7 linked regions of the Homo sapiens genome follow. The protein of the gene in region 2 interacts with the protein of the main gene of each other region in a biochemical or structural test. Each region holds a gene or a part of one and is shown on either strand. Other genes may lie near its edges. The genes, in order: PALMD, EPS15, CLINT1, WEE1, TMEM114, LMTK3 and DLGAP5.

What was found.
Region 1: the proteins of EPS15 (region 2) and PALMD interact in a test that uses a peptide from one of them, tested with the Homo sapiens proteins (one large-scale study listed by BioGRID).
Region 3: the proteins of EPS15 (region 2) and CLINT1 form a complex in vitro, tested with the Homo sapiens proteins (one study listed by BioGRID).
Region 4: the proteins of EPS15 (region 2) and WEE1 interact in a test that uses a peptide from one of them, tested with the Homo sapiens proteins (one large-scale study listed by BioGRID and IntAct).
Region 5: the proteins of EPS15 (region 2) and TMEM114 interact in a test that uses a peptide from one of them, tested with the Homo sapiens proteins (one large-scale study listed by BioGRID and IntAct).
Region 6: the proteins of EPS15 (region 2) and LMTK3 interact in a test that uses a peptide from one of them, tested with the Homo sapiens proteins (one large-scale study listed by BioGRID and IntAct).
Region 7: the proteins of EPS15 (region 2) and DLGAP5 interact in a test that uses a peptide from one of them, tested with the Homo sapiens proteins (one large-scale study listed by BioGRID and IntAct).

The regions. Positions count from the first base shown.
Region 1 is NC_000001.11:99,683,544-99,687,817, reverse strand, and holds part of PALMD (palmdelphin), read right to left. Parts: intron 1,143-4,274; coding exon 1,028-1,142; intron 889-1,027; coding exon 855-888; intron 743-854; coding exon 629-742; intron 1-628.
Region 2 is NC_000001.11:51,354,832-51,359,105, forward strand, and holds part of EPS15 (epidermal growth factor receptor substrate 15), read right to left. Parts: intron 2,016-4,274; coding exon 1,869-2,015; 3' UTR 1-1,868. UniProt on the Homo sapiens protein: Involved in cell growth regulation. May be involved in the regulation of mitogenic signals and control of cell proliferation. Involved in the internalization of ligand-inducible receptors of the receptor tyrosine kinase (RTK) type, in particular EGFR.
Region 3 is NC_000005.10:157,852,562-157,856,459, forward strand, and holds part of CLINT1 (clathrin interactor 1), read right to left. Parts: intron 1-3,898. UniProt on the Homo sapiens protein: Binds to membranes enriched in phosphatidylinositol 4,5-bisphosphate (PtdIns(4,5)P2). May have a role in transport via clathrin-coated vesicles from the trans-Golgi network to endosomes. Stimulates clathrin assembly.
Region 4 is NC_000011.10:9,583,164-9,587,345, reverse strand, and holds part of WEE1 (wee1-like protein kinase), read right to left. Parts: intron 2,089-4,182; coding exon 1,993-2,088; intron 1,905-1,992; coding exon 1,819-1,904; intron 898-1,818; coding exon 727-897; intron 636-726; coding exon 490-635; intron 1-489. UniProt on the Homo sapiens protein: Acts as a negative regulator of entry into mitosis (G2 to M transition) by protecting the nucleus from cytoplasmically activated cyclin B1-complexed CDK1 before the onset of mitosis by mediating phosphorylation of CDK1 on 'Tyr-15'.
Region 5 is NC_000016.10:8,587,244-8,591,971, forward strand, and holds the start of TMEM114 (transmembrane protein 114), read right to left. Parts: upstream 3,269-4,728; 5' UTR 2,596-3,268; coding exon 2,376-2,595; intron 2,051-2,375; coding exon 1,970-2,050; intron 1-1,969.
Region 6 is NC_000019.10:48,508,479-48,513,356, reverse strand, and holds the start of LMTK3 (serine/threonine-protein kinase LMTK3 precursor), read left to right. Parts: upstream 1-1,521; 5' UTR 1,522-1,743; coding exon of another isoform or gene 1,744-1,780; coding exon 1,781-1,856; intron 1,857-2,764; coding exon 2,765-2,898; intron 2,899-3,183; coding exon 3,184-3,334; intron 3,335-3,843; coding exon 3,844-3,920; intron 3,921-4,387; coding exon 4,388-4,506; intron 4,507-4,878.
Region 7 is NC_000014.9:55,150,392-55,154,140, forward strand, and holds part of DLGAP5 (disks large-associated protein 5), read right to left. Parts: intron 2,257-3,749; coding exon 2,199-2,256; intron 1,551-2,198; coding exon 1,304-1,550; intron 458-1,303; coding exon 408-457; intron 1-407. UniProt on the Homo sapiens protein: Potential cell cycle regulator that may play a role in carcinogenesis of cancer cells. Mitotic phosphoprotein regulated by the ubiquitin-proteasome pathway.

The sequences.
Region 1 (4,274 bases), about 48 Mb from region 2:
TCTGTATTGCACTCCCTACCATGATATATTTAGTGAATACCTACTATGTGCCTAACTGAACCTGGCACACAGTATCTATTCTCTAAATATTTGTTGAATGAATAAATGACTACCATCTGCAAATAAAGAGTAGCTTTTCCTTCCACTGTAAAATTCAAAGTTTTCCTCTCTGCTCTAATGCAAACCTTCATTTTTCTAGAAGCTTTGAAGCATCAGTTTTATGTAACTCAATTTCCCATGGAGGTAAATAAGGCCTAAGCTTCCCAAAGGAATATTTTCATTTTCAAAAAAGATCTTTGTAACCCCCAAAGAGGTTCTATTGGATGGAATATGTCAGGAGAAATATTTTTGACCAGGGAATCTATGCTTTTAAGAGCTTCTTGTCTCCTTTGGGTCTCTATCTTCCTTATCCCTGTCTGGTTTGTTAGGGAATAAAATGCATGGAATAAATGCTATTATTATACCCTCATTATCCTCACCTATGCGGTGACTCACATAACTCACAGAACTTTGTAAAGTGAACCATTGCTTAACCTGGAAGAATAATATGTCATAGCAAGTTGTGAATATTTGACACTGTAAAATCTGAAATTAAGAACATGCCCTTCAACACAGATTTCTCATATACCTTTCCTATTTTGTTCATCATCTTCTTTTTCTTCATTTATCTCCTTCCTTAACCTAGAAGGTATGTAGGACTTTGGAAGGTCAGGGATATTAGCATAGATGTCCTCAATTGACTCTGTAAAATTAATATGAATTCAAAATACATTTAGAATATATTTACAATGGGAACAATTTCAAATTACCAAAAAAACTTAGTTTAACATAAAATAAGTTATTCAAAAACATACCTTCTGCTCTTTCTTCTCTTTCCACTTTCACAGACTGTAAGAAAAAAGAATTCTCCATGATTAATACAGTTTAAAAAATAGAATCTAAATGTGGATATGCTTTGAAAAATTATATAGTATTTGTGGATTCATTTTGAGAGAGAATTACAGTTTTAAAATTGGTTAATGCTCACTCTTATAATGTCTTCTGTTGTCCGCTCAATTGACTTTAGTTTCTTTAAAATGGCCTCTTCCTTCGTTGAGATTTGCAGTTCAGCTTTTTCAAGATCTTGGATCTCTTTCTCAAGCCTGACAACAAAAAGGTATACTTTTTATTGCTTAACACAGTACAAATGCGGAGTTCTCAAATATGTCTTCCCCATATATAAAGTTTCCTTGGAATATGCATGTAAGTAGCCAGACACTTTCTAAGAATATAATGTCACACTTAGCATCACACTAAGCATGATACTTAATATATGGAAGATACCTAATGCCCGACTTTGAACGATTTTCAAGTTTTCTTTTTTTGACAAAGGAATATATTAGGTAAAGCATTTGACCTTTGCTCCATGTTCTTCATTGCAATTACTAATGTTATTTCCAAATAAAAGAGATTTTTAAAATACAGAGACATAAGTTTAAAGTTGTACCGAAAGGAATGGTACATTTGTAGTTATTATGTAGTTCATCAGGTTTTCATATCCAAGTCATCATATAAATTATTTGAAGAAAACATTATAATTATTAAACTGATTTAATAATCATAGTCATTTAGTACTTAAAATTCTTGCATATTCTACCATTGAAAATGACACTTTGATTTAATTTCAGTTTCCTAAGAGTTGGGCCATATTATAGTGAGGAGGGTGAAGAGATGCAGAAATGGACCAAATATAGTACAGTAGCTTCAACTGCTGCTGTTTATAGAGGCTACATTTTCTGGGCGGGGGGTAGGGCACACATGGCCTGACACAGCATAAGGAACTTACAGCAACAAAGAGACAGACATTTGAAACTAGACTGTTGCAAGCATTCTGAGCTGGTATCTTGGCCAGTGTACAGCTGCGTGTCAGATTCAAATGAACTCCAGGGGGCAGCATCGTGACCTCTCCTCTATAAAAACATAGAGACACTGGCAATCACGCAGAAGGCTGGCCCTTGGCAGCCACGTAACACACATGGTTTCTCAGCCAAATACACTAAGGCTCTAAAGTCAGCTGCCTCAGAGGATGGCTGATTAGATTCAGCAGCTGGTCCAGGAGGTGACAGCTGTGGATATTCGTGTCAGCTAAGAGAACTGTCAGTTTTCTTGGCTTCCTTCTTGAAGATGGTCATGGGCCTGGCAGCTCAAAAATGCTGCACTATTGTCACACCAGTAAAAGCCCAAGATGTGGTCAGCTTGACAGCTCTCTTGCTCATTGCTTCAGTTTCAAAGTTCTTACTTTGCTGCTGCCTCTGGCCATTGGTAGATTGCCGTTTATAACTGAGGAGGTTTTCTTGTATGCCACAGACCTCTAAGTGAAATGGAGTAGCCCCTGGTTTCTTAGAAGTGACTGAACTGTGACTGCCATTTTATTAAAATTCCTCCACATCCATGGCAGCACTTTTACCCTTCAGCAGAGCTGTGGGGATATATGTTGGTCCAATTTGGTAAAGGGGAAAGCTCTGCACTAAAAGTGATAAATCTGGATTCAATTCTGTCTCTGCTACTCATTTCTTGTGAAAGCCAGTTCCCCTAACCTCTCTGAAACTCTGTTTTGTAATGTGTGTAATGAGCATAATTACAGATTACGCTCATTACCATATACAGACAGATATGTGGTGACACTAAGAGATGATGTATATGAAAGTACATTGAATATGGTTGATATCAGATGTAAATATGTTATGATATAATTTTTAAAAGTTTTCTGCAACATACTGTATGTCTTTCTTTTTTCATCCCCTGTCCCACAGGGTGCTTACCTAATTTGCCTGTTAGAGACAGTCTACAAAGGAAAGCCTTTTGGTAGAAAACAAGAAGGTTCAAATCATTGCTTCAAGCAGCTCTTGCACATCAGGGCCTAGCTGTGGAATCAGGTGGACCTGGGTTTGAAACCTGGTTCATCTGCCAGCTTCCTGTGTGACCTTAGACAAGTCACCTGACCTCACTAAGACTCAGTGTTGGGCTGAGAGAAGTGGCTCATGCCTATAATCCAGCACTTTGGGAAGCTGAGGCAGGAAGATTGCTTGAGCCTAGGAGTTAGAGATGAGCCTGGACAACATAGTGAGACCTCAGTCTCTACAAATATTAAAAAAAATTAGCTGAGCATACACCTGTGGTCTCAGCTACATGGGAGGCTGAGGTGGGAGGATTGTTTGAGCCCGAGTGGTCGAGCTTGCAGTGAGCCATGATCATACCATTGCACTCCAGCCTGGGCAACAGAGTGAGATCTGGGCTAACAAACAAACAAACAAACAATAAAACTCATTGTCTTTATTCATTCATTCTTTTAAAAATATTTACTTAGCATCTACTTTGAACCAGGCACTCTTCTATGTGCTGGGGATCTTACAGTGACCAAAACAAAGTCCCTGAGCTCAAGGAGTTTATGTTCTAGTGGGAGACAATACAGGGGCTGGCAACCTTTTTCTATAAGGGGCCGGATGCCAAATATTTTAGGTTTTGCAGTCCACATATGCTTTCTGTTTCTTATTCATCTTTTTTCCCCTTTTTCTTTTACAGCCTTTTAATAATATAAAAACCATTTTTAGCTTGTGTCTGTACAAAATCAGGCCAGGGCTAGATTTGGTCCTGGGCCATAGTTTGTCAATCCCTGCATTAATAAATGTGTAATACAAATATGTATATATTGCAGATGTATGTACATACATATATATACACATAAACACATTTATTTATGAAGAAAAAATATTTTTGATGAGAAAAGCAGGATAGGGGCTGTAAACAGCAAGATAAAGAATATAGAGAAAGCCTGAGGAGGGGGCACTATTTCACACAGTGTGGTGAGGGAAGTTTCTCTGATAAAGTGTCATTTGAGCAGAGACATGAAGGAAGTGAGAGCGGGAAACATGAGGGTTTCAAAGGGAGTGTGCTCCAGAGAGATGGAAGAGTAACTATAGAGAGCGAAGGAAGAGCCAAGAGAGTAGAAAGGTGAAATGAAGTCAGAGAGGAGGCAGATGACCAGATAGGCAGGGCCTTGTGCATGGAAGGGCTTTGGGGAAGCCACTGGAATTTTGAACAGAGAGGAAACATGCTATGACTTGAAATGTAAACAGTTACACTGGCTGCTGTGTGGAAAATAGACTGGATGGGGCAAACATGGAGGTCAATTGTGCTAAAAATCTAGATGAAGATGGTGTAATCCAGGTTGGTTGCCAGTAGAAGGGTGAGAAGTGGTTGGATTCTAGAAATATTTGACAGAAAGAGCTGTCAGA
Region 2 (4,274 bases):
GTGTTTATAAGTTATAGATATTTAATATTTGAGTTTAATTGAAAATTTTTTTGAAGCATTTAAACATTTGCTTATTTTCCCAGTGCAAAAGAAAGTTGTTCAAGTCAACTTACCTTTATCCTAAGGAGTAAGAGGAAGAAAATAAACAAAAATACCACCTATCACAACTCCCAGTCAAATTTTGCAGAAAATCCTTAGGTCACTGGATTCGTTTATCAAAATTAAGCCTTGTGATTATGATTCAGCCCTTGCTTCATATGTATGACTTTTATGCAGAAATGTTTCTATTTACAAAGGTAGAAAAAAGTTAGCAGTGCAAGATAGTGGTTTAAAGTTTGTTTTAAACTGTAGGAGTCTAATTGTGTAATGGAAAGAAAACAAAACAAGCACCATTTCAAGAAGAAATGAATTGGATATTTTGGAATTTATTTATAGGCTAGGCAATAAGTTACTCAGATTAACACAGATCAATACCACCTTGACTTGTTGACCCAGAGAATTCTAATTAGATTTTAGGTGCATTTTTCTTTATCTTGGTATTTAATACATCATCTAAGTCAGTAACCGTGTTAAACAAAATTAAAATGACAAGTTACAGCTTACTTCACAGTCTATTTCAAATTCAGCTTGTCCACTAGGTCAGTTTTACAGGAGATGGTCTTTTAACATGAAGAGGTCTGATAATCTGGCAGGTCTCTTCTCTCCCAATTAAAAAAACAAGAGTTTTTTTGCTAGCTTGACAATTTTATAGGTGAAAAACATGAAGTGAGTAAATAAACTAAACCACAAAGATGGACAAAAAGCAATATGATATAAAACACATCACTTTTTCTATTTGTATTCAGTGAAAGTTTTTACATTTCAAGTAAATGAGCCTTCATTAAAAAAAAAAAAACAAATATATATGAAAAATTAAAGTACCTTCCAGTTCTAGCTTGCTGAAGTTTCTTCTGCAAAAGTACAAAAATTAACCCACTAAGAACTAAACAGGACAGGGCCACGGCAAAGGCAGAATGGCTGCCATGTTAAGACTTTTGCTTGCCTTATACTGATGGGTATATTTTAGGTGATAAATTTTCTCCACTATCTATCACTTAAAATGAACATTTTCTTACAAACTTTATTTGTAAGAAACTGATTTTTATTAATTAGCAAACACACTGAGAGGTATCTGTTGATCTAAAATTCTCTAAATCCAGATAAATCTTTTTAAAAATTTATTTCACACATGAGGCTTTAATATTTTTAGTTAGGAAAAGATCGAATCTGAGGCTATAATGGTTCAACCTACAGCATCCCTTTTCCATAGTGGAGTAAATCTGTGCAAAATATTTTTCCTTATCTCTGAAAAACAAATTAAGTAGAGGAAATTTAAAAATGCACTTTAGCCAATTTGCACCAATCATAAAAGAAATAAGATATTCTTTCCCTTACCCTCACTCAACCATTCCAATCAGGGGAGAATACTGCAAACTTTAAGAACCTCACTGGCTATCATCAGAATAACTACAGAACAGGGTAGTGCAGGGTGAAACTATTTCTCTATATTCCAGAAGGCAGAAGCTTGGGTGCTCTAGCTTTACAAGTAAAATAGCACAGGCAGGCAAAAGCTCACAGTAAATGTATACCAGAACAGGGGCCTAAGTGAAGGTGAATTTGTCTGACTGGGTTACGGCTTTTATAAGAAAAAAAAAAAAAGACGAATCTGTAATGAAGAAAAAAAAAAAATCCTAAAATTTTGTCACATTTACAGGAATCTCAAACCTTTTGTATTCCCATGCTCACAGGTAGTTTTGATACACATTGTAAATAGTTTCAGTATTCAGGAAGAAGAATACTATATTGTTGCCAAAGAACAAGAGAATTCTTCATGCTTCTGATATCTCAGATTTGCTGAGTGCAATAGCCAGTTCTAAGTCTTCTTGTTCCTGCTGATTTAGTCGGGCAAGCCTCTGCTCTTCCTCTCTCTCACTTTCCCTCTTGGCCCATTCGATCATATCTTCTTCAGAGGGATACTGCCATTTAAAAGATCGATGAACAAACGAATAAATAAATGAGTAAAGCAAGTAAAAAGAAGGAAAAATAGTTTTTACAAAAGGACACCTGAAGGACTCTGGAAATAGTCTGGTTACTTGTTAATTCTTTTTTTTTTCCCCCTGAAAACATGTTTAATATTAACCAGTTATTAAGCTATAGTTTAATTTAAAAAATTAATTCAATCTATAGATAGAAAGTCTATAAAACTAAATGTTAAAAATGCCACTAGGCTAGATGTGGTGGCTCATGCCTGTAATCCCAGCACTTTGGAGGCTGAGGCAGGTGGATCACCTGAGGTCAGGAGTTCGAGACCAGCTTGGCCAACATGGCAAAACTCGCTCTCAACTAAAAATACAAAAATTAGCTGGGCATGGTGGTGGTGCCTGTAATCCCAGCTACTTGGGAGGGTGAGGCACATGAATCACTTGAACCCAGGAGGCAGAGGTTGCAGTGAGCCGAAAATGCACCCCTGCACTCCAGCCTGGGTGACAAAGTGAGATTCCATCTGAAAAAAAAAAAAAAAATATATATATATATATATATATATATATATATATATTTTTTTTTTTTAAATGTGATATATATATATATATATCTCACTAAAAAAAGTAGAAATGCTTATAGTAGATTAGAAGATTTAAAAACAGGACAGGGCTAGCCTTTTTGACCTAATGTAATGTAAAATATTTACCACTTCAACTTTACTGAGACCCTCACACAACAAATCATTTTTAATTTAATCCCACTGGTAGTTTCCTAACCCTTAATGTGTAAAAAAGCTAAGAAGCAAGAAAAAAAAAAAAAAGCTGATTTTGCTATACATCATATTAAAGTATTGGGTATACTAAGCAAGATGTGATTTAAACCTAATCTTTTTTTTTTTTTTTTGAGACAGAGTTTTCGCTCTTGTTGCCCAGGCTGGGTGCTATGGAGCAATCTTGGCTCACCACAACCTCCGCCTCCCGGGTTCAAGCGATTCTCTTGCCTCAGCCTCCCGAGTAGCTGGAATTACAAGCATGCACCACCACGCCCGGCTAATCCTGTATTTTTAGTAGAGATAGGGTTTCTTCATGTTGGTTAGGCTGATCTCGAACTCCTGACCTCAGGTGATCCGCCCATCTCGGCCTCCCAAGAACCTAATCATATTTTATAAAAAGCATTTTGAGCCAGGCATGGTGGCTGACATCTGTAATCCTAGTTCTGTGGGTGTGGGCCAATTGCTTGAGCTCAGAAGTTCAAGAAGTTCATCTTGGCAACATGGCAAAACTCTGTTTTTACAAAAAAAATTAGCCAGGTGTGGTGGTGCACATCTGTAGTTCCAGCTACCTGGGAGGATCACCTGAGCCTGGGAAGTTGAGGCTGCAGTGAGCTGTGATCATACCACCGCTCTCCAGCCAGATCGACGGAGTGAGCCAAAAAAAATAAAAATAAAACAAAAAGCATTATGAAGATTTCTCCAGGCTTTGGGAACTTTTAGACCAGTCTAAATAAAATCTTAACACTCATAATTATTATGTTGGGGAAATATTTTTATCTACCCCAAACAGCAACCTTGGCAAATACTAAATTAAAAATTCTAATTGGTTTCAAGTCTTGTTACATAGAAAATCCTTCATGAAAGGATGAAATAAAATACACTGTCAGGCTTTTGAAATGGTAGTTTTTTTCCCTAGGGAATTAAGCAAAACTTTGAAACGTGTAATGCTTAACCACATCTTTCACAATGAAAAAAGAAGATGTTCTTATTATAAGCTGTTTTTTATTATACTATATTGAGATTTTGGAGCAAAATGCCTCAGCTGTTGTTCAAGACTCCTTCCAACCAGATTTGTTTTTTTTTGTTTTTTTTTTTTTTTTTGAGGCGGAGTCTCGCTCTGTAACTCAGCTTGAGGACAGTGGCACTATATCAGCTCCCGCAACCTCTGCCTCTGGGGCTTAAGTGATCCTCCCACCTCAGCCTCCCTAGCTGGGATTACAGGCATGCGCCACCATGCCTGGCTAATTTTTGTATTTTTAGTAGAGACGGGGTTTCACCATGTTGGCCAGGCTGGTCTCACACTCCTGACCTCAAGTGATCCGCCCGCTTCGGCCTTCCAAAGTGCTGGGATTACAGGTGTGAGCCACCCCGTCTGGCCCCAACAAGAGTTTGACTTGCTAAAACCATACTTAAGATATTAAATGCCACAAACTACCAGAGGGTTATTTTACACTAAGAGAATTATAACCTTCTAAAAAGG
Region 3 (3,898 bases), on a different chromosome or scaffold from region 2:
TAGATGTTTCAAGAGTTTACTGTATGTCAAGTACTATACTGTTTCACATTTAATCCTCATAATCCTATAAAATATCATCTCTATTTTACAGAGAAATAAAGATACCATTCTAACACATAAGATCACCGTTTCTAGTAGCAGACCTAAGATTTCAATCCAGTTCTCACCTCTGAACCACTAGCTATTCCCACATTTATTAAACACCATCTGGAGGCACCTAAGTATAGTGGCAAAGTATATTTGGCTAGCAAATTATTATAAAAATACATAGATGGACAAACACACATAATTAAGCTAAACAAGGAAAGCTCACATGAAGCGTTAACCTGAAAAACACAGAAGAGTAAACAGTAAAATATGTTGTCACCAAAGGTAGCTGAGACTAAAAAGTTAACTGTATATAAGAACCTTCAAAAGTACTAAAAATGTACTTTGAATCTGTGAAGTGATCTTCATTAAAACAAACATTGGAAACAAGTAGGAAAATAATATAAGCATACAAAAGGCCAGAGGCAATGGCTCATGCCTGTAATCCCAGCCCTTTGGGAGGCTAAGGCAGGCAGATCACATGAAGTCAGGAGTTCGAGACCAGCCTGGCCAAAGTGATGAAACCCCGTCTCTACAAAAATTAGCTGGGCATGGTGGCACATGCCTGTAATCCCAGCTACTTGGGTGGCTAAGGCAGGAGACTCGCTGGAACCTGGGAGGCAGAGGCCAGTCGCAGTGAGTTGAGATCACACCATGGCACTCCAGCCTGGGAGACAGAGCAAGACTCCATCTCAAGAAAGAAAGAAAAAAAAAAAAGTCCAGAAAAAGACTCAACTGTAGAGCCATATTGTGAAACCTTGGATTACTAGCAAATGGCACTCAAAATAAAAAAGGCTAAGTACTTTCAATGGACATATCAGTAAACAGATGAAAAACTGCTTTGTAGGCCGGGCACGGAGGCTCACGCCTGTAATCCCAGCACTTTGGGAGTCTGAGGCAGGTGGATCACCTGAGGTCAAGAGTTCAAGACCAGCCTGGCCAACATGACGAAATCTCGTCTCTACTAAAATTACAAAAATTAGCCGGGCATGGTGGCACGTGCCTGTAATCCCAGCTACTCAGGAGGCTGAAGCAAGAGAATTGCTTGAACCCAGGAGGCAGAGGTTGCAGTGAGCCAATATCGCACCATTGCACTCCAGCCTGGGCAACGAGAGCGAGACACCATCTCAAAAAAAAAAAAAAAAAAAAAAAAAGAAAAACTGCTTGTAAACTAATACTAAAGTGTGCAAGAAAACATAAGAGGCAGTTAAGTGCTTTTTAAAAGCACCCTGACAGTAGTACTAAATAGATTAAACTACAGAAAATTACCCCTAAGAAATGCTAGCAGAGATAAACCAAACTCATCTTTCTTTGGAATTAAATTCCTAATATCTACTTGTGTCCAGTTACTAGAAAAGGAGGAGAATAATTAATTCATTGTTTCAGCAATAACAATTACTTATAATCGGTTCAAAGAAAAGTTGACATGGGAAGACTAGAAAGCTGACAACTATCTTACTATCTCTGCTTTCAAATTCCAAGAAGCAAACTGAACAGAGATTTACTGGTAAGATAAAGAAAATAAAGGGGATGATATCTGAAGACTGAAAGAAAAGAAAAGAAAAATAATCCATTCAAGTTGTAGCATATTTGTAGTGGCAAGGTTCTTGAAGGCAGGTATTGTATGTTTCGAGTTCAGAAAATAGAGTACTAGACCAGGCGCAATGGCTCCCGCCTGTAATCCCTGCGCTTCAGGATGCTGAGGCAGGCAGACTGCCTGAGCCCAGGAGTTCAAGACTAGCCTGGGCAACATAGCAAGAACCCTTCTCCACAAAAAAATTTTTTAAAATTAGCCACGCATGGAGGCGCAGCTGTGGTCCCAGCTGCAGTGTGCATGTTTGCATCACTGTGCTCCAGCCTGGACAACTGAGTGTGACCCTGTCTCAAAAATAAAAAATAAAAAGAAACCAGACTACTAATCCAATAAATAACAAATGTATTGCCTGTTAAAATAAATGAATATACTATTCTTTATAAAAGCAAAAGTTTCTCCCTCTGGAGTCAGGAGACTAGAACAGCAGTTTCTACAGCTCTATTACATTATCTAAACATTTAGGAACTAAAACCAAGCAAATATACATCAATAAAAATCAACTTATGAGGGAAAATGCAAGCTATGCTTAGGAGAATAACTTAAAATGGACTACCCATAGCTGTTGCCTTAGGACCTTAGCCAGAGCTGTTTGAATCACTATCAAAAAAAGGGCCACTGAGGCTGGGCAAGGTGGCTCATGCCTGTAATCCCAGCACTTTGGGAGGCCGAGGTGGGTGGATCACCTGAGGTCACAAGTTTGAGACCAGCCTGGCCAACACAGCAAAACCTCAGCTGTATGAAAAATACAAAAATTAGCCAGGCATGGAGGTAGACGCCTGTAATCCCAGCTACTCGGGAGGCTGAGGCAGGAGAATCATTTGAACCCGGGAGGTAGAGATTGCAGTGGGCTGAAATCACGCCATTGCACTTCAGCCTGGGGGATAAAGTGAACTGTCTCCGAAAAAAAAAAAAGGCGGGGGGGGGGGCGGGTCACTGATGAAAGAGATTTACCACTAATATTACTCCTTGCAAGGAAAGAGAAGGATTCGCTGAGCTTGAACAAATAAGTAGCAGTTTTGATCTACCACTACCATGTCACCTTCATTACATTCCTCAAATCTAGAGAGAAAATAGAACTGCAGCAACTTTCAATTTTACCATGTATAGGATGACAAAATATAAACATGTCCAATTTTATTACAGCCACAAGTAAAGATAGGTCATAGGATGACAATGATTAAGCTAGTGCTCCTAGTTGGTGGGAATGGTGCCACTTATCCTTTCCTGCCACATCGCCTTTTATGCAACTTGACGAGTGGGAAGATACTGGCATTCCAAGCTCTGGCAGGCCTATGGCTTTATCTGCTTCCCTCAGTTCCACAATGTTCTGCAAAACAAATCCCTCTACTGCCACCAGGAGGTGCAGCGATTGTGGAAAATATACCCCCACTTCCAGAAAAAGTCTTCAAGGTCTCAAAAGCCAGTGTTTGAAATACATCATTATCACTTTGAGTAGCTGAGATGGGTGGATCACCTGAGGTCAGGAGTTCAAGACCAGCCTGGCCAACATGGCGAAACCCCGTGTCTACTAAAAATACACAGATTAGCTGGGTGTGGTGGCAGGCACCTGTAATTCCAGCTACTAGGGAGGCTGAGGCAGGAGACTCGCTTGAACCCCAGAAGTGTAAGCTGCAGTGAGCTGAGATCTCGCCACTGCACTTCAGCCCCGGGAACAAGAGCGAAACCCCATCTCAAAAAAAAAAAAGAAATACATCATTACACTTAAGAGCCGCTACCATACTGAATCTAAGAGTGGCTCCAGGAAACACATTTTTCAGAGTACATTTCTTTTTCTGAAGTAAAACCTCACTGGGTATCAATATACACTAAAAGTCCTAGTCTTCCTGAGTCATGGTCTTATTTATTGCATAAAATATTTAAGTATAACATTTATTGATTACCACTTTTTAAGAAAATTTCCCTTTTCAGCCTAAATTGTCTACAGAGGATAATGGCTCCAAAATTTGTCTGCTATTGTAAAAACTAGTTCCAACTATTTTTCCTTGATGGAAATGCATTTCTCCAATAGCCATCAAAGGTGGAAAAAGTCTTACTCTAGCCAGGTCCCCTCATTTTACAGATAAGGAAGGCAAAGTCTGGAGATTCATGTGATTCTGCCTCAAATCATACATACAGCTAATTAAAAACGTAATGCCAGAATATGAACCAGATAGTTAAACCCCTAACCTTTCTCTCATAGAAGCCCTCATTCTATTG
Region 4 (4,182 bases), on a different chromosome or scaffold from region 2:
AACAACACAAATTTAATAGGCCAAATACTAATTCATGGCAGAAGTCCCCAAGCTTTCACCGTATAACAACATATCGAACTACTGGAGCCGGGTGAGGTGGCTCACTCCTATAATCCCAGCACTTTGGGAGGCCAAGACAGGTGGATGGTTTGAGCCCAGGAGTTCAAGACCAGCCTGGGCAACATGGCAAAAACCCCATCTCTACAAAAAATATAAAAATTAGCTGGGTGTTGTGGCATGCATCTGTGGCTCAGCTACTCAGGAGGCTGACACGGGAGGATAGCTTGAGCCCAGGAGGTGGAGGTTGCAATGAGTCATGATAGCACCAGTGCACTCCAGCCTGATGACAGTGAGACCCTGTCTCAAAAAACAAAAAACACAAAAAACCACTACATCCTTTGTTGACAGAAAGCTTAAATCATCTCTCATTAAAATTTGAGAATTAAAGTGAATGAAAAAGCAAAAAGAAAACATAAAACCCTCACTTACTTTTGTAAAAGTGAATTTTTGAACTTTTCGGCATTCAATTCTATTCGTAATTGTTCTGCACTCTTTCTAGAAGCGGACAGCAATACTGAATGCTTTACCAGTGCCATTGCTGAAGGTCTTCTCTCTGGATCTGGATGAATCATAACCTTAAAAAGAAAAGTAAAATGAAGGTAAAGACATGCATTTAATAAAATATAGAACCATGTCAATAAAGGGCTTCATATATAAAATGCTCACTTTTAGCAACTCTGTAAATTCTTGGGAAAGCACTTGTGGTATCCGAGGTAATCTACCCTGTCTGATTTCATGCCATTGATCTCCATTTCTCGGAAGAGGTTCAGCACCAGCAGCACATACCACTGTGAGGGCAAGCGCAAAAATATCTGCTTTTGGTAGATGGGTATAATTCTGTAAAATTAAAACAATTTTTTAAAGGAATGTAAACATGGTCAAAATAAAACAAGATTACACCTCAAAGATGACTTAGGTGAAAAATAGGACTTAATCAAAGTGTCTAATACCACATTTAAGTTTGGGACCTATTCAGAGAATAAACTGCTAAATTTGAGGATGTTTATTTTTTAAATTACAAAGTAATACACACTCTTGGGGGAAAAATGCAAACACATAGATAAGAGTAAATGCCTCTTCTTTATCAACAGCCCAATTCAACTCTCAAAAGAAATCCCTCTACCTCTAGGCATTCATATGCAAACACAAAACACGTAGAAACACACTGACAAGTTACAAATACACATATACGTGATAAAGCAAACATATATATACACATATTTACAAAGAGCAATGGGATCAGACAATTACACTTTATATTTTTCTACTTATTCTATTTTCATTCAAAATTTTTATCAAGAAATACTGTCACACTCTTTTGAAACTATAGGCCATACTAATAACTATGTGCCATAATTTACTTAATCATTCTCTTATTAGTAAACACTTATTTACACTGTTCTCAACTTGTATTTGTATATGAATAGTTCTATAGGAAAAACTCCTAGAAGTGAAAATTATGAGTCAATGGGTACATGATTTTTAAATATTAATGCAATACTAATACTCTGATCTCCAAAAAGGATATGCCATTATAAAGTTCCACCAGTGGTGTATGAGAACATATTTTTTACGACAACTCCATTATAAATCTTTGCCTTCATGACTTTTTGCTTATTAAATGCCCTCAGATGACGGTTTAGATTTTATTTCCATTCTATTAGTTAACTTCAAAGTTTAATATATCTGAATTTATATTCTTCTATCAACTGCTAAGTGTTACAAAGCAAACTATGATTAAGGGAGAAGAAAAATTACCTCCTGTAAAACTTCATTTGCAAGAAAACGACTATCGCCCTCTTCAACTTGTGGACTGGAGATCCTTGTTACATGCCCAAGATCACCTAGAAGTATTGAAAAACTTACAGTGAAGAGCAAAAACAAAACAGCCTTCTCTTTATCTGAAGGTAATAATCTGATTACCTTTCTTACCTATTTTAAACATAACTTTGTTGGATGCCCAATCATCTTCGTCTCCTTCTTCAGAGGCAGCATTTGGGATTGAGGTTCGAGATATGAAAATATTACCTGTCAAACAGTTAATTATGTAAGCCAAACTAATAATAATAAAACCAGAGTTCATAAACAAGATCATATACCAGAATCATCCATAATGCTTTTTAAAATGCCGATTCTCAAGTTCTAGCCCAAACCCATGGAATAAGCATCTCAGGGGACAGAAACCAGGGTTATAGTTGCTGGGAATTTTTTTTGTTTTTTTTTGAGACAGTGTGCTCTGTCACCCAAGCTGGAGTGCAGTGGCATGATCTTGGCTCACTGCAACAAGGTTCAAGCAATTCTCATGCTTCATTCAACCTCCTGAGTAGCTGGGACTACAGGCACATGCCACATCTAGCTAACTTTTATATTTTTAGTAGAGACGGGGTTTCACTATGTTGGCCAGGCTGATCAAACTCCTGGCCTCAAGTGATCCTCCAGCTTCAGCCTCCCAAAGTGCTGGGATTACAGGCATGAGCCACCACTCTGGGCCTCTGGGAATATATTTTCCAGCCTAGCACTGATCCTAAACACTTTAAACTGGATGAGGCCCTTGTCTTCTAGCACATTACCCTTCAGCAAAAAAGGTAGTATCAGTAATTTGTGAAATTCTGTGAAAGCACAAGTTTTAATGTAGCGCTATAAGGCTGGTGTGAGCAGAATGAGTCATTTAGCCAGTGAGTCTGGCTGACCATATAGCATCTACCTTGCAATATGGCTTTGTGATTCACTATTTCCTATTGTATACACATTACCTTTTTTCTTCAAATTCAGGTAAGATCATAATTAACATGAGCTTTTAGTGGCAGATTCTATTTTAATAGTTTTATCAGTATAGTATTGGCCAGGTATGGTGGCTCAAGCCTGTAATCCCAGTGCTTTGAAAGGCTGAGGTAGGAGGATTACCTAAGACTTGGAATTCGAGACCAGCCTGGGCAAGATAGTGAGACCCTGTCTCTACAAAAAGAAAAAGAAAAAAATTAAAATAGCTGGGAATGGTGGTGCATGCCTGTAGTCCCAGCTACTTGTGAGTCTGAGGCAGGAGGTTCATTTGAGCCCAGGAATTCAAAGCTGCAGTGAGCTATAATTGCACCACTGCATTCTAGCCTGGGCAACAGAGTGAGACTATCTCTAAAAAATAAGGCCGGGAGTGGTGGCTCACACCTGTAATCCCAGCACTTTGGGAGGCCAAGGTGGGCGGATCACTTGAGGTCAGAAGTTCAAGACCAGCATGGCCAGCATGACAAAACCCCATCTCTACTAAAAATACAAAAATTAACTAGGCATGGTGGTGCACGCCTGTAATACCAGCCACTAGGGAGGCTGAGGCAGGAGAATCGCTTGAACCCAGGAGGCAGAGGTTGCAGTGAGCCGAGATCGCACTACTGCACTCCAGCCTGGGCAACAGAGCAAGACCCTGTCTCAAAAGAAAAAAAAAAGTATATATATATATATATATATATATATATATATATATATATATATGTGTGTGTGTGTGTGTGTGTGTGTGTGTGTGTGTGTGTGTGCGCGCGCGTGCACGCACACACACGCACAAATATTTAGTATTAAATTTATGTTACATTTACTGGAGTCATCTATACGTTTTACTTTCTTTATAGGACAACTTATTTTGTGATGGTATTTGTAAATTGGAAGGTTTTTTTTTTTTTTTTTTGAGACAGTCTCGCTCTGTCGCCCAGGCTGGAGTGCAGTGGTGCGATCTCAGCTCACTTCAACTTCCTCCTCCCGGGTTCAAGCAATTCTCCTGCCTCAGCCTCCAGAGTAGCTGGGACTACAGGTGCCTGCCACCACACCCAGCTAATTTTTTGTATTTTAGTAGAGACGAGGTTTCACCGTGTTGTCCAGGCTGGTGGTGAACTCCCAAGCTTAGGCAATCCACCCGCCTCAGCCTCCCAAAGTGCTGGGATTACAGGCGTGAGGCACCACGCCCGGCGAATTTTTTTTTTCTTTTTTTGAGACGGAGTCTCACTTTGTTGCCTAGGATGGAGTGCAATGGTGCAATCTCGGCTCACTGCAACCTCCGCCTCCCGGGTTCAAGCAATTCTTCTGCCTCAGCCTCCCGAGTAACTAGGACTATAGGTGCGCACCACTACACCTGGCTAA
Region 5 (4,728 bases), on a different chromosome or scaffold from region 2:
TGAGCTCCACCTACAATATAATATAATTTGCATTCACTAACATGTTTGTTCAGCAAACTTTGACTCATGGGCTACTATGTGCCAGGTTCTATGCTAAATATTGGGAATTCAGCAGTGGCAAGATAGACATGGTCCTTGTCCCCATGGAGCTTTCAATCTAATGAGGGAGTCAGATTTAAACCCCACCCCACAAAAAAGTCATACAATTTGCACTTAGCAGTTAGCCAAGTCAAGTTGGTGGGATAAAAGCAGGGAGATTCCAGGTGGAGGGAACAGCATGTGCAAAATATTTGTGGCAGGAGGAAACTTAGCATGTTCCAAGAACTGGCCAAGGCCAGCACAGCTGGAAAGAAAGGAGTAAAGCGGAGAATGGGGCTGGAGAGGGACCCTACCAAGCCTTGTGGGCCATGCTAGGCACTTGTCTTTATTTTTTTATCCCCAGCCTCAGTAAGTCTATCAAAAACTGCTCATGCCTATAATCTCAGCACTTTTGAGAGACTAAGGCAGGAAGATTGCTTGAGCTTAGGAGTTTGAGGCTGCAGTGAGCTAAGACCGTGCCACTGCATTCCAGCCTGGGCAACAGAACAAGACCCTGTCTCTGGGTAGGGTTGAGTGGAGGGAGAAGGCCAGGCACAGTGGCTCACACCTGAAATCCCAAGACTTTGGGAGGCCAAGGCAGGAACATCACTTGACCCAGGAGTTCAAGACCAGCCTGGGAAACATAGTAACTATGTTTCCTATCACTATTAAAAAAAAACTGATACCAATGCAGTGGCTCACACCTGTAATCCCAGCACTTTGGAAGGCTGAGATGGGCAGATCACTTGAGGTCAGGAGTTCGAGACCAGCCTGGCTAACATTGTGAAACTCCATTTGTACTAGAAATATGAAAAATTAGCCCGACGTGGAGGCAGGCACCTGTAGTTTCAGCTACTCAGGAGGCTGAGACAGGAGAATCGCTTGAACCTGGGAGGAGGAGGTTGCAGTGAGCCAAGATTATGCCACTGTACTCCAGCCTGGGCAACAGAGCAAGACCCTGTCTCAAAAAAAAAAAAAAAACCTGCCCACATTTTCAAAGTCTATGAAACTCAGTCTTCATTTCCTCATCAGATCCTCCTACAGAACCTCTCTGGGCCTCCTCATTGGAAAAATGAAGGCAGAAATGACGATACTAATAACTTCATAGGGTGTGGCTGTGGGAATCAAATGAAGACATAGATGAAAAGCAGTTCGCTCCACGTCTGGCTTATCTCAAGCCTCAATGAATTGAACTGTTAGGTTTATTTCCCTCCCTCCACAAATGCTCATTCATCCCATTTCCTTTCTTGCTTTCAGTCCTCACAACTTTTACTGAGTTCCAGGCACTGAGCTGGGTACTAAGAACCAACCAGGAATAAGAGGGACGCAGTGGACCTGAGAGGAGGGGCTGTTCCCACCTCCTAATTGCCTGGCTCCAATCATATATTTATATGCAAATTTCTATCGCACCCCACTACTGCAAAGCCCTTGTTCTAGGCAATGTGAATACAAACAACGCTGGCATGGAATCTGTGGAATGAGACCTCTCTTTCACCATTCACCTCCCGAGGCTAATTTAGGTCCCTGCAGGGGCTTCCCACCTTCCCTTCCTCACGCTGCTGGACTCTAACTGCGCGTCTCCACATTTGTCCCAGCACCACTGTGAGCCCCTTGAGGGGATGGCCTGTGTCTTAACCATCCATCAAAACGGTGCAAAGAAAGCCATTAGTCAACGTGAGCTGAATGAACCCTAAACCACAAAACGTTACAGGTGGATCAGGAGAGACCCTGCCCCCCGGTCTTAAGCCCACTCCATTCTCAGGCTGGGCTGTCAGAGGCCACCCCAGCCGCCCTCTCCGCAGGCCCCGAAGCCCGGCTGTTTTGGGAAAGGCTCCAGAACTCACGGCTAGGACCGGGGCGCTCCCTCCATCCTCACCCTCCCCGGACTCACTGAGAAGTTGCCGGCTCGATTCGCTGACTGTCACGTTCTCCAGCCTGAAGGGGTTCATCAGCGGTGTGCACGGGCTCTGCACTGGATAGGACGGAGGAATCCATGGGTGCAGGACCCCGGAGTTCTGTGCAGCACCCTCGTCTGCGGCTTTGCCCCCATGCTCACCCTAAGTGCCCCACCCGGGGAGGGCGCGGGGAGAGCTAGAGCAGTTGGGATCGCAGCCGGGTGCCTCTCGGAAGGGTTTTCGCAGTCCCGGCCTTCTGCTCACCTTCCCCCCGAGTCCCTAGACATTGTATTTTAGGGACTTGGGGGAGGAGTGCGCGCCAAGCAACAGGTCCCAAGGGAGCAGGGCACCGCGCAGGGGGCGTTCGCAGCCACAGCTCCCAGCCACGGGGTGCACCCTTACCCCGGCAGGTCCGCCAGAGGCCGGAGTGGGAGCTCAGAGGCTCGGGCTGGCTGCGATTGATGGACCCCAGCAGGTCCTGCGCCCCCGGGCCAGTCCTCTCCAGCCGCTCGGTGTCAATGATATACCAGAAGTCCGTGCCGATGGCGGCCGCCAGGAGCACAAAGCTGAGCGCCCCGGTCAGCGCAGCCGCGCCGGCCAGCCCGCCCAGGTGCACCCGCATCGCCGAGCCCAGGACCAGCAGCCGCGGGTTCCAGTGGCCGCGGCGCGACCCCTCTGCTCCTGCCCCCGTCCCCAGCCGGCCACCGCGGGCTCCCAGCTCCACCGCCGCCAGAGCCGCGGAGCTCAGATCTGAAAGCCTTTCCTTTGGACCCCGGGCCCTAGCTTAGACCCTGGCTCCTCACCTGCCGGCTCCGACCTGCACGCGCCCCCCGCTCAGCCGCCGTCCACGTTCCCACCCCTCCAATGCCAGCTCTACCTGCAGACCCCCTCACTCTCACTTGTGCTGTCCGACCTCCACCTCCGCCTTCAGACCCTCCTGGAAGCTCTAGTCCTTCCCCACCAGCACCTTAACCCACCTCGTCCCTCAGCCCCACTCCACCCTCGGCCCTCCACGCCCAGCCCAAGCGGACTCTCTCACTTCAAAATCCTCACTTTCCCCAGACTCCTACTCCCTCCATTCCCCTGCCTCACTCTCCACGAACCCTCCCCACGATCCCAGATGCTCCCCTCTCTGCCTCTGTCTCTGGATTTCCGCCCCAGCCCTTTTTCTTGGCCCCACACTGCCAGATCCCCACTCCCAGCCCTGCTCTCCAGGGTCTTCCCGCAGCTCCTGCTCTGGCCGGGGCGCAGCTGACCCTCTGAGCCCTCCTCCTCGCCGAGGAAAAGCTCGGAGTGCGCACGCAGCATGGACGGGGGCGGTCCCCAGCCCTGGAGCGCTGGAGGCTGCCGGTGTGGAAGGGCAGGCGGCCTTGGGACCACCTGGGGCAGAAAGAAGGAGGGGTGTGGCGGGCCTCACAGTCCCGCCAGGATTTGCAAATCATCTCCAAGAGCCCCTCCAGCTCCAAGTACCCTTCCTCCAAAATCCACCTTCGAGTGTAGTCTGGGCTGACTAGAATGTGAAAAGGCACATTAATTTTTCATAAAAGTTCTCTAAAGCACTGAGGTAGTCCAGGTCCTCAGAATCTATCATTTCTACCCCCAAAGTCTTTCTTCATTATCATAGCCACCAGCATTGCCACCATCATCACCACCACCACCATCACCATCATCAACATCACCACCAACAACAACACAATCATCACTACCATCACCATCATCATCACCACCATCACCAGCAGCAGCATCACCAACAGCACCACCATCACCATCATCATCATCACCAACAACAACACCGTCATCACTACCATCACCATCATCATCATCACCACCATCATCACCAGCAGCAGCATCACCAACACCACCACCATCACCATCATCATCATCACCACCACCACCATCACCATCACCACGGACAACACCACCATCACCACCATCACCATCATCACCACCAACACCGCCATCATCACTACCATCACCACATCATCTTCACCACCATCACCACCACCACCACCACCATCACCACCATCACCACCACCACCATCATCGCTATCACCACCATTGCCATCGTCATCACCATCATCATCACCACCACCATCACCACCACCACCACCATCACCATCACCATGGACAACACCACCATCACCACCATCACCATCACCACCACCATCACCACCACCATCACCATCACCACAGACAACACCACCATCACCACCATCACCACCACCACCACCATCACCACCATCACCACCATCACCACCACCACCATCATCACTATCACCACCATTGCCATCGTCATCACCATCATCATCACCACCACCATCACCACCAACCACCACCATCACCACCAACCATTACCACCACCATCATCACCACCATCACCATCATCATCACCACCATCATCACCACCATTACCACTATCACCACCATCATCATCACCACCATCATCACCACCATTACCACTATCACCACCACGGTCATTACCATCACCACCACCATGACCATCACCATCATCATCACTACCACCACCAGCACCAGCACCACTCTCCTCTTTATCATCACCATCACTCTTATCAATTCCACCATCTTCTTCACCACCATAAAACCTTTTACTCCTTCAAGAAATACTTCCGGTACCTTCTATGTGTCTGATGCTATAGTCTATGTTAAGAATATAGGCATGAACAATCCAAAAACAAGTCCTGCCCTTAAGAAATATAGGATTCAGGCTTCCCAGACTTTTACAAAGTAGGGGACA
Region 6 (4,878 bases), on a different chromosome or scaffold from region 2:
GCCTCATCTGTACAATGGGCATGATTAAAAAATACCTGTCTCAGAGGGCGGTTGTGAGGATTGAGAGGTAATTCTGTACGTGTAAAACGCTGCGGACGATACCTGGCACAGACTAAATACTCATAAGAATAAATACATTAAATAAACTATGATCATGTATCTTTTGTATGAGGCAAGTGCTGTGGTTGTGTAATGTCTGCGTAACCGCACGGGAAACGTGGGTATTTGCGACCCGTGTGTCTGTGCGCGTGTCTGTGTCTGTGTTGTGGGTGTGTGACTCTTTGTATGTGTTATGTGTGCCAGTGTGTGTTTATGTATGTGATGTGTGACTGTGGTGGGGTTCTGTGTCTTTGTAACCTTGTGTGAAAGGTGTGTGTATTTGTGATGTGTGTGTCCATGTCTGTTTAGGTATGTGATGTGTGCAACTCTGTGTGTCTGTGTATTTGATCTGTGTGCCTATGTCTGTGCTTATGTATGTGTGACTGTGTATATGTGCATGTTATATGTGTCTGTATGTATCAGTGTGTGGTGTATTTATGTGTATTTTTGCATGTGATTTATGTAGCCCTGTATGTATGAGTTGTGTGTGCCCGCATGCATGTGTATGTAGTGTGTCTGTGTGTATCCATGTGAGTGAAGCTTGTGTCCGTGTGAGTGATGCATGTTACGTGTCCGTATACATGCATGTATTATGTTTCTGTGTACTCATGTATGTGATGTGCCTGTCTCTGTGTAGCTGCTGTGTCCGTGTCTATGTTAGTTCATGTGATGTGTGTGTCTGCGTGTGTCTGTGCAATTGCTGTCTGTGCATGTCTGTGTGACGTGCATGTATGTGATACTTGTGTCTGTGGGTATTCTTTGTTGCCCATTTGTCTAGGGACTGTCTGCGTGGCTGTGACTATGAGTGTCAGCATGTCACAGTGGTGTCCGTGGGGATCTTTGTCTGTGGCGTGTGCGTCTGTGGATCTGGGGCTTTACTTTGTCCGGGGCATGTGTGGGTCTTTGTGATGCTTTGACGTTCCTGCGTGGCCGGGTGCATCTGTGCTGGAAGCTGGCCTGCCTGTGCGTTTCCAGTGCGGTCCCTGCGTCTTTGTGTGTGACGTGTACGTGTCCCCGTCTGCTGATGGCTGTCCACCTTTGTATGTGATGCGCTTGTCTATGAGGGTCCCTGCGACGTGTGTCAGCTGTGTGTGGGCTGCGCGTGCCTGACATCTGCATCTTAGCGTGTAGCACATGTGTCCATGCTGGTGGCATGTCACAGCGGTGTCCGGGCCAGGCACCCGTGGGCCCTGCCCCCCCACCCCCGCTGCAAGTGTGTGCCGGTCCCTGTCTGTCCCTCCCCCTCCCATTTCCTCCCCTCCCTCCTGGCAGCCAATGCTACGGGGGAGCCAGTTGCCATGACGACGCTCCATCCTCCCTCCTCCCACCCTTCCTGTGACAGGCTCTCTGCTCCCCCAATCCTGGCTGCCCTCGGGGGCGGGGCCCTCTTTCTCGCCCCCCCCATCCTACCCTCTCCCCCCCACCCCAGCAACCCCGGCTCCCCAGCATCTCTCCTCTGTCCGCCTCTCCATCCCTTCATCCGTCTGTCCCTTCAAAGAGGGGGAGGGGGGTACCTGAGCCAGCAAGCAGCCCCTCCCTCCCCCTGTCCTGCGTCTCCTGCCCCTCTCCTGGGCCGGGAGGAGGCCAGGGTCGCGCGGGTCCCCATGGCTGGGGGCTGAGGGCCCGCCCCCCCCTCCTCCCCAGCCGCCACCACCTCCACCTCCCTGCCATCCTCGACAAGATGCCTGCCCCCGGCGCCCTCATCCTCCTTGCGGCCGTCTCCGCCTCCGGCTGCCTGGCGTCCCCGGCCCACCCCGGTGAGTCTGTCGGGCCATCAGTCTGTCCGGTGGCCCCCACCCCCGCGGCGGCCTCGCTGTCTGCCCAGGGGTCTGTCTGCGGGTCCTGCCCCGTCACCTGGTGCGCGTCTTCCCGCAGCCCAGCAGGGCCCGGAGCGGCGGGGACGGTGCCTCTGTCAGCAGGGCCTGTGGGAGGGAGGCTGGGGGCTGGGTGGGGAGGGGGCTCCGTTTGGGCAACATGTGTGTATGCGTGCACGCATGTGTTTGTGCTGGTGTGTGCAGGAAGAAGGGGAAGGACAGGGCCTCTGGGAGAATTGGGGGCAGAGGACAGGAATACTATTTCTAAGGGGGACACAACACGGGAGGCTGTCTCTGGCTTCTGGAGAGACCCAGGGCTTGCGGAGTTCCCTTCTCTGGGTCTTGGGCTGGGGATAGAGAACATCGGTGTGCGCCAAGCGTCCCTAAAAGAGACAGATCTCAACCCCACAAACTGGGGGGTTCCAGCATGGGGCAAGAATCTTCTCCCAGCCTGCAGCTGAGAGCTAGTCCTCCTCCCCAACGAGGGGTAATGAGGCTGTCCACGGGAGCGTATTTTAAATTCTGCAAGCTCCAGACTTCACTATCACTCCTCTTTCCTTCAACCCTCATTGGAATTCATCCAAGCCTGGGGTGAGGGGATGGGGTGGGATGAGGTGGCGGGGGTCCCAGTTTGGGACGAGAAGAGAGACCCCACCCCCAATCCAACCACTTGGGAAGGCCCCAAACTACAACTCCCACAATGCCTTGGGCCACTCTGCACCTCTGCCAAGGGACCCTGGTCGCAGAGCATCACGGGAGTTGTAGTCCAAGACGTGCCGGGACGGGAGGGGGCATGATTCCGGTATCCAGGGACTTGAAGCTGGGACCCCAGCCCAGCCCTGTGCCCACAGATGGATTCGCCCTGGGCCGGGCTCCTCTGGCTCCTCCCTACGCTGTGGTCCTCATTTCCTGCTCCGGCCTGCTGGCCTTCATCTTCCTCCTCCTCACCTGTCTGTGCTGCAAACGGGGCGATGTCGGCTTCAAGGTGAGGTGCATGAGGGGATTCAACTTGGGGAGGAAGACTCCAGCAAGGCCTTTACCCCCTACACAGGTGGTTGGTGGGGAGAAGGGGGCAGTAAATCCGAGAGCACCTTCCAGCTTGAAGCTATGGCAAGATCTGGAGCCTTGGGATGGGGAAATGGGGGATGGAAATTGGGCTGGGACTGGGAGACAGTTACAAAAATGAAGGGGAGACAAACTTAAGAGAAAGACGATGGCGTGTCTCTCAGCCCTGCGTTCTCCCACCCCTCTTCTCCTCTCCTGGCCCCAGGAATTTGAGAACCCTGAAGGGGAGGACTGCTCCGGGGAGTACACTCCCCCTGCGGAGGAGACCTCCTCCTCACAGTCGCTGCCTGATGTCTACATTCTCCCGCTGGCTGAGGTCTCCCTGCCAATGCCTGCCCCGCAGCCTTCACACTCAGGTACTGCCCCACGCCATGACCAGCATCCCATGGTGTCCCGGGAAAGGCCAGAAGATGTTGAGTGTGTTCCTTCAGGGGCTGGGGCGGTTGAGACCAGCGGCAGCCAATGGGAAAGGCATAGGTGGGAGCGCTGGAATCTTGGAAGCAGCCTATGGGGAGGCAGACAAAGATCATCTTGGTGGAAGCCATTGCTTAATCCAAAACCAGATTTGGGGATTTTTAAGGGGCAAGCGGTGGTGAGATTACCATAGAGCACAGTCTCAGAGGCAGCCAATGGGAGGCTGAAATCACATCATAGGAGCTTGGGATGCCAAAAGGAAGGACTGATTGGATGCTGGAGCCTTGTGAGCAGCCAATGAGGAAGCTGAGATTCTGACATGGAATGTGGGTGGCAGCCAATGAAAAGAGAGTGATGTCTGCTCTGTCTCAGTCCCCACTGACCTGGGGTGTGTTGGTAGCACTCAGGAAGGGGGAGAGACTCAGGGGCTTTCCCCTCTTGCCCTCCCCAGACATGACCACCCCCCTGGGCCTTAGCCGGCAGCACCTGAGCTACCTGCAGGAGATTGGGAGTGGCTGGTTTGGGAAGGTGAGTGGGCTGGGGAGGGGAGGCAGGGCTCCATGGATCCCGAGCTGTCCTCCTGTTCTGTGTCCACACCCCTGCTCTCACCACTTCTCATCTGTCCCTCGCCTCCTCCCCATGCCCCCTCAGCCTCCCATCCCCCCTCCGTCCACCTCTCACCGGCTCCCACCCGCCCCATCCCCGACATCTGTCAGTCAGCGCCTCCCTCCTCACTCCATTGACCACTCCGCCGCGCCACCCGGCTCTCCACGCGTCCGTCCGTCTGTCCATCCTTCCATCCGTCCCTGCGTCCATCGGATTCTGGGCCCGTGAGTGTCTCACCCCATGTCTGGTGGGGGTCAAGGGTGGTGGGATGTGGAGGGAGAAGCTGGGAAGGAGCCGGGGGTTGGGAGCTGTGTGGTGGAGTGGAGCTGGTCCCAGGGGACGGGGCTGGGGAAACGGCACTCGCTGACTCCTGGGTGCCCCTTGACCAGGTGATCCTGGGAGAGATTTTCTCCGACTACACCCCCGCCCAGGTGGTGGTGAAGGAGCTCCGAGCCAGCGCGGGGCCCCTGGAGCAACGCAAGTTCATCTCGGAAGCACAGCCGTACAGGTACTGAGGGTTTCTCAGTGGGTGTGTGCCTTGTTGAGGTGACATTCAGGAGTGGAAGGAGTGCTGTATGGGGTCACACCTGGAATCTACCTCTTCCGGTTGTGCAGCTCTGGCAGGAGAACTTCCCTCCCTGAACCTCAGGTTCTTCCTCTGGACCGAGCTAAGGGTGGGAAGTGAGAGGCAGGATGGTGGAGGAGGCGGGAGCACAGAAGCTGAGCTAGAGGCCTGCTCCTCTCCCCTCTGAACCTCCGGATCTTCATCTGGAAAGTGAGTCCAGGAAGCCCTAGTGTCCTCATGAAGAGGGCAGCTGAGAGGATGTGAGATTCCCATGTCCAATGTTGGGTACCAGCTGGTACTTCCCTTCCCCAGGCC
Region 7 (3,749 bases), on a different chromosome or scaffold from region 2:
ACCAGAAGTAAAAGCAGGGAAGTAGCCACTAAAATAGCAGGACATAAATAACCAATGATGACTGAAGGTGGGATAGATATTATTTCCCCAGAAGGGCAGAAACTTTGCCTTATATTTTTCTTGAATCACTTAGAAATATATTCAGATATTCAAGTACCCAGTTTGTCAGAGCAAATTTGATAGAAAAACCATATAGAAAAACATATCTTCAGGGTTAATATTAAAACATACTATATTTTAAAGTATATAAACACCAAATTTTTCTTCATTCTGTGAAAAATGAAGAGTGAGTAAGCAAAACAATGACAAGATATACATTTTAAGCCTTGTACACAAATAGAAAAGCAATATTCATTTTATAAAACAAATCTAGAATATAAAGGGACTTGTCAAGTTGGAAAACTTACTGAATCAAGAAGGTGGCATTCAGTAGTGAGACTTTTATTATCAAATAGTTCTGAAAAACAACAAAAAAAAACTTTTTAAAGAATATTCTCACATTCGAGGGCTGTTAGAAATGGACAAAGCCATGAAAAATATGAAAAGTTCCACATATCAAATGCTAAGACAAAAATATAGACCCCTATGCTATAATGTTTTTTGAAAGTAGTTAAATTCTTATCCTTAACTTTGGTATAAAAGCAGACTTCTGTAAACAAATCTCATGCTTGTAACATTAAAGGTACCCAGAAAATGCTGATGAAGAACAGCTGGAGGACATTAAATGTCTGGCCGAGGTTAAAACCTTTTGTTTTACCATAGGCCCCAGTTAGACCAGCTACAGACTAACTGATGAAAATGGCAGGTAAAACTGGCACACATTATAACAAAAATATAGGAGCCATTTCCTATTGCAGAACCATCACAACAATATAGGTAGAACTAGGCAGTAGGGAAGAAAAATAGGATATTTTGAAGAAAGACTTGGGGATATGTGTTGAAAAGGACAACTAAAAAAAAAGCCCAGGCTGGCCAATGTGGTGAAACTCTGTCTCTACTAAAAATAAAAAAATTAGCTAGGCGCGGTGGTACATGTGTAGGAGAATCGCCTCAACCTGGGAGGTGGAGGTTGCAGTGAGCTGAGATCACACGACTACACTCCAGCCTGGGCAACAGAGTGAGACTCCATCTCAAAAAAAAAAAAAATCTTGAGGGAATTGTTCTAATTCAGGGTCTTCACTAACAATGAAGGATCCTCAATAGTTAGATCTAATGTAAAATGGACCTTATAGGATAATTTATACCTTAATCCAAGTTCATTTCTTTAATAAAGGCTCGTTTAAATATATTTTAAATATCTCACCTGACTGAGAAATTTTAGTTTCCCCTTCTTCTAAGATGCTATTTTGTGAAGCTGTATTTTTTTCAGGGCTACTCATCAAAACATCCTGTGATGTAATTGAAGAATTCAGTTCCATTCCTTCCACAACATCTGAAATTCCTTCTTTTTTGTTAGTATTAATATCATCTGCTACTCCACCAGCAAGAAGAGGCAAACTCATTCTCTCACTGGATAAACAATCCACCTTCAAGTCTGTCTTATTTACAACCTGGAAGTAAAAATGGCATTATATTTAATTATCAATTTAATTACTTGGAACAAATTTTAAAAGTCTTGTTGCTATTAAATACAAGAAAAACAGAAGGATGACATCCCGGACACAGTCTTAAGAACATTATAAATCCTACTATCCTGCTTCTTCAACAATTAGTTCAGATAATATTATAGAAATAGTATGATTGAAGGCAAGTTTCTCAGCAAGTACCTATACTCTAGCTCAGGGACTGGCAAACATTTTCTGTAAAAGATCAAATAGTAAATATTTTAGGTTTGTGAGTCACAGGGTCTCTGTCATAAGTACTCAACTCTACCACTGTATTGCAAAAGCAGCCAGATAGAATACATAAACAAATGTGTGGCTATTACAATAAAATATGATTTGTAAAAATAGGGGCCAAAGTTTGCTGATTTCTGCTCTAGTTCACTGGTTCCATATTCATTCTGATATGAGTTGAAGAATACAAAATGACACTATGGTTTTAAACAACCCAAATGTCATTGAAACAAGAACTACAATTCTACATGACTGATTTAGATTTCCAACGGAAATTCTGGGGATGCTTTACAAAGTTACTTTCTATAATGATATAAACATATGACATACTGGGCTATCTAACCACACTGGAATTGTACTTACATGATTTTCTTCAATTAAATCTGGTAATCCAGGACACTGAGCATCTTCTATGCTGCTCCTAAAGAAGAAAAAAAGCAGCATTACACTCATAAACATATTGTTATTGTTTCACTTGTATTTTGAGTCTTTCCTTTAATGATGGCAATTAGTTTAGGGAATGGATCAAACATGGAGCCTGGTGCAAGATCAGGCGTGATCCAGATAGATTAGTTTTGGACTATAGCTACTGCAGGATGGCCTTACAAACTAAATGCATTCTTCCCCAGAAAGCTCACAAGTCTGTTACCATGGTGGTCAGTCAGGGTCAGGTGGCTCTACCAGCAATACTCTGAATCTCAGCCAAATCCAGAGCTATATATTAAAGAAAAGTCAAAAAGAAGGTGACTTCTGGAGACAGAAGCAACAATTCAATTATTGTCTAGCTGGAGTTAGCTACATTTACTCGTTACTTGTTAATCCAGGTACCTGCTAAGAAACTTGACTTCAATCATACTATTTCTATAATTTTATCCGAAAGTTCAAAAAGCGGAACAGGAGTTACAATGTTCTTAAGTCTGCTGCTTGTTAACAAGTAAATGTAGCTAACTCCAGCTAGACAATAATTGAGTTAGAATACAAGGTATTCTAATCCTGAAGTTACTAGCTTGTATCTTATTAGAAATATCTGTTTTGGCCAGGCGCCTTGGCTCACGCCTGTAATCCCAGCACTTGGGAGGCAGCGGCGGGTGGATCACGAGGTCAGGAGATTGAGACCATCCTGGCTAACATGGTGAAACCCCGTCTCTACTAAAAATACAAAAAATTAGCTGGGCGTGGTGACATGCGCCTGTAGTCCCAGCTACTTGGGAGGCTGAGGCAGGAGAATCACTTGAACCTGGGAGGCGGAGGTTGCAGTGAGCCGAGGTAGTGCCACTGCACTCCAGCCTCAGCAACAGAGCGACACTCCGTCTCAAAAAAAAAAAAAAAATTTATCTCCACTTCTTTCAAGTTACTTTTTAAAAAAGATATGCTCTATTTTTCTAGTGTCCAGCTTTACTTTGCCTTTATTACACAAAGTTGCTTATTTGTATGATGCCCTTTGAGGATGTTTTGGGGAATCCAAAACATTTTTAAAGAGTACTTATGACTCAAATGCAATTATGAATCTTCTTAGCAAACAATAGTAAACTACAAGATATACAAAGTAGGCCGGGCATGGTGGCTCACGCCTGTAATCCCAGCACTTTGGGAGGCCAAGGCTGGCAGATCATGAGGTCAAGAGATCAAGACCATCCTGGCCAACATAGTGAAACCCCGTCTCTACTAAAAATACAAAAATTAGCTGGGCGTGGTGGCGCGTGTCTGTAGTCCTAGCTACTCGGGAGGCTGAGGCAGAAGAATCGCTTGAACCCAGGAGGCAGAGGTTGCAGTAAGCCGAAATCGTACCACTGCACTCCAGCCTAGGCAACAGAGTGAGACTCCACCTCCAAAAAACAAACAAAAAAATCTAGAAGCATATCTAGCCCATAACAGTTGTTCAGTACACATTAACTCCCCCCCCTTCAATATGCT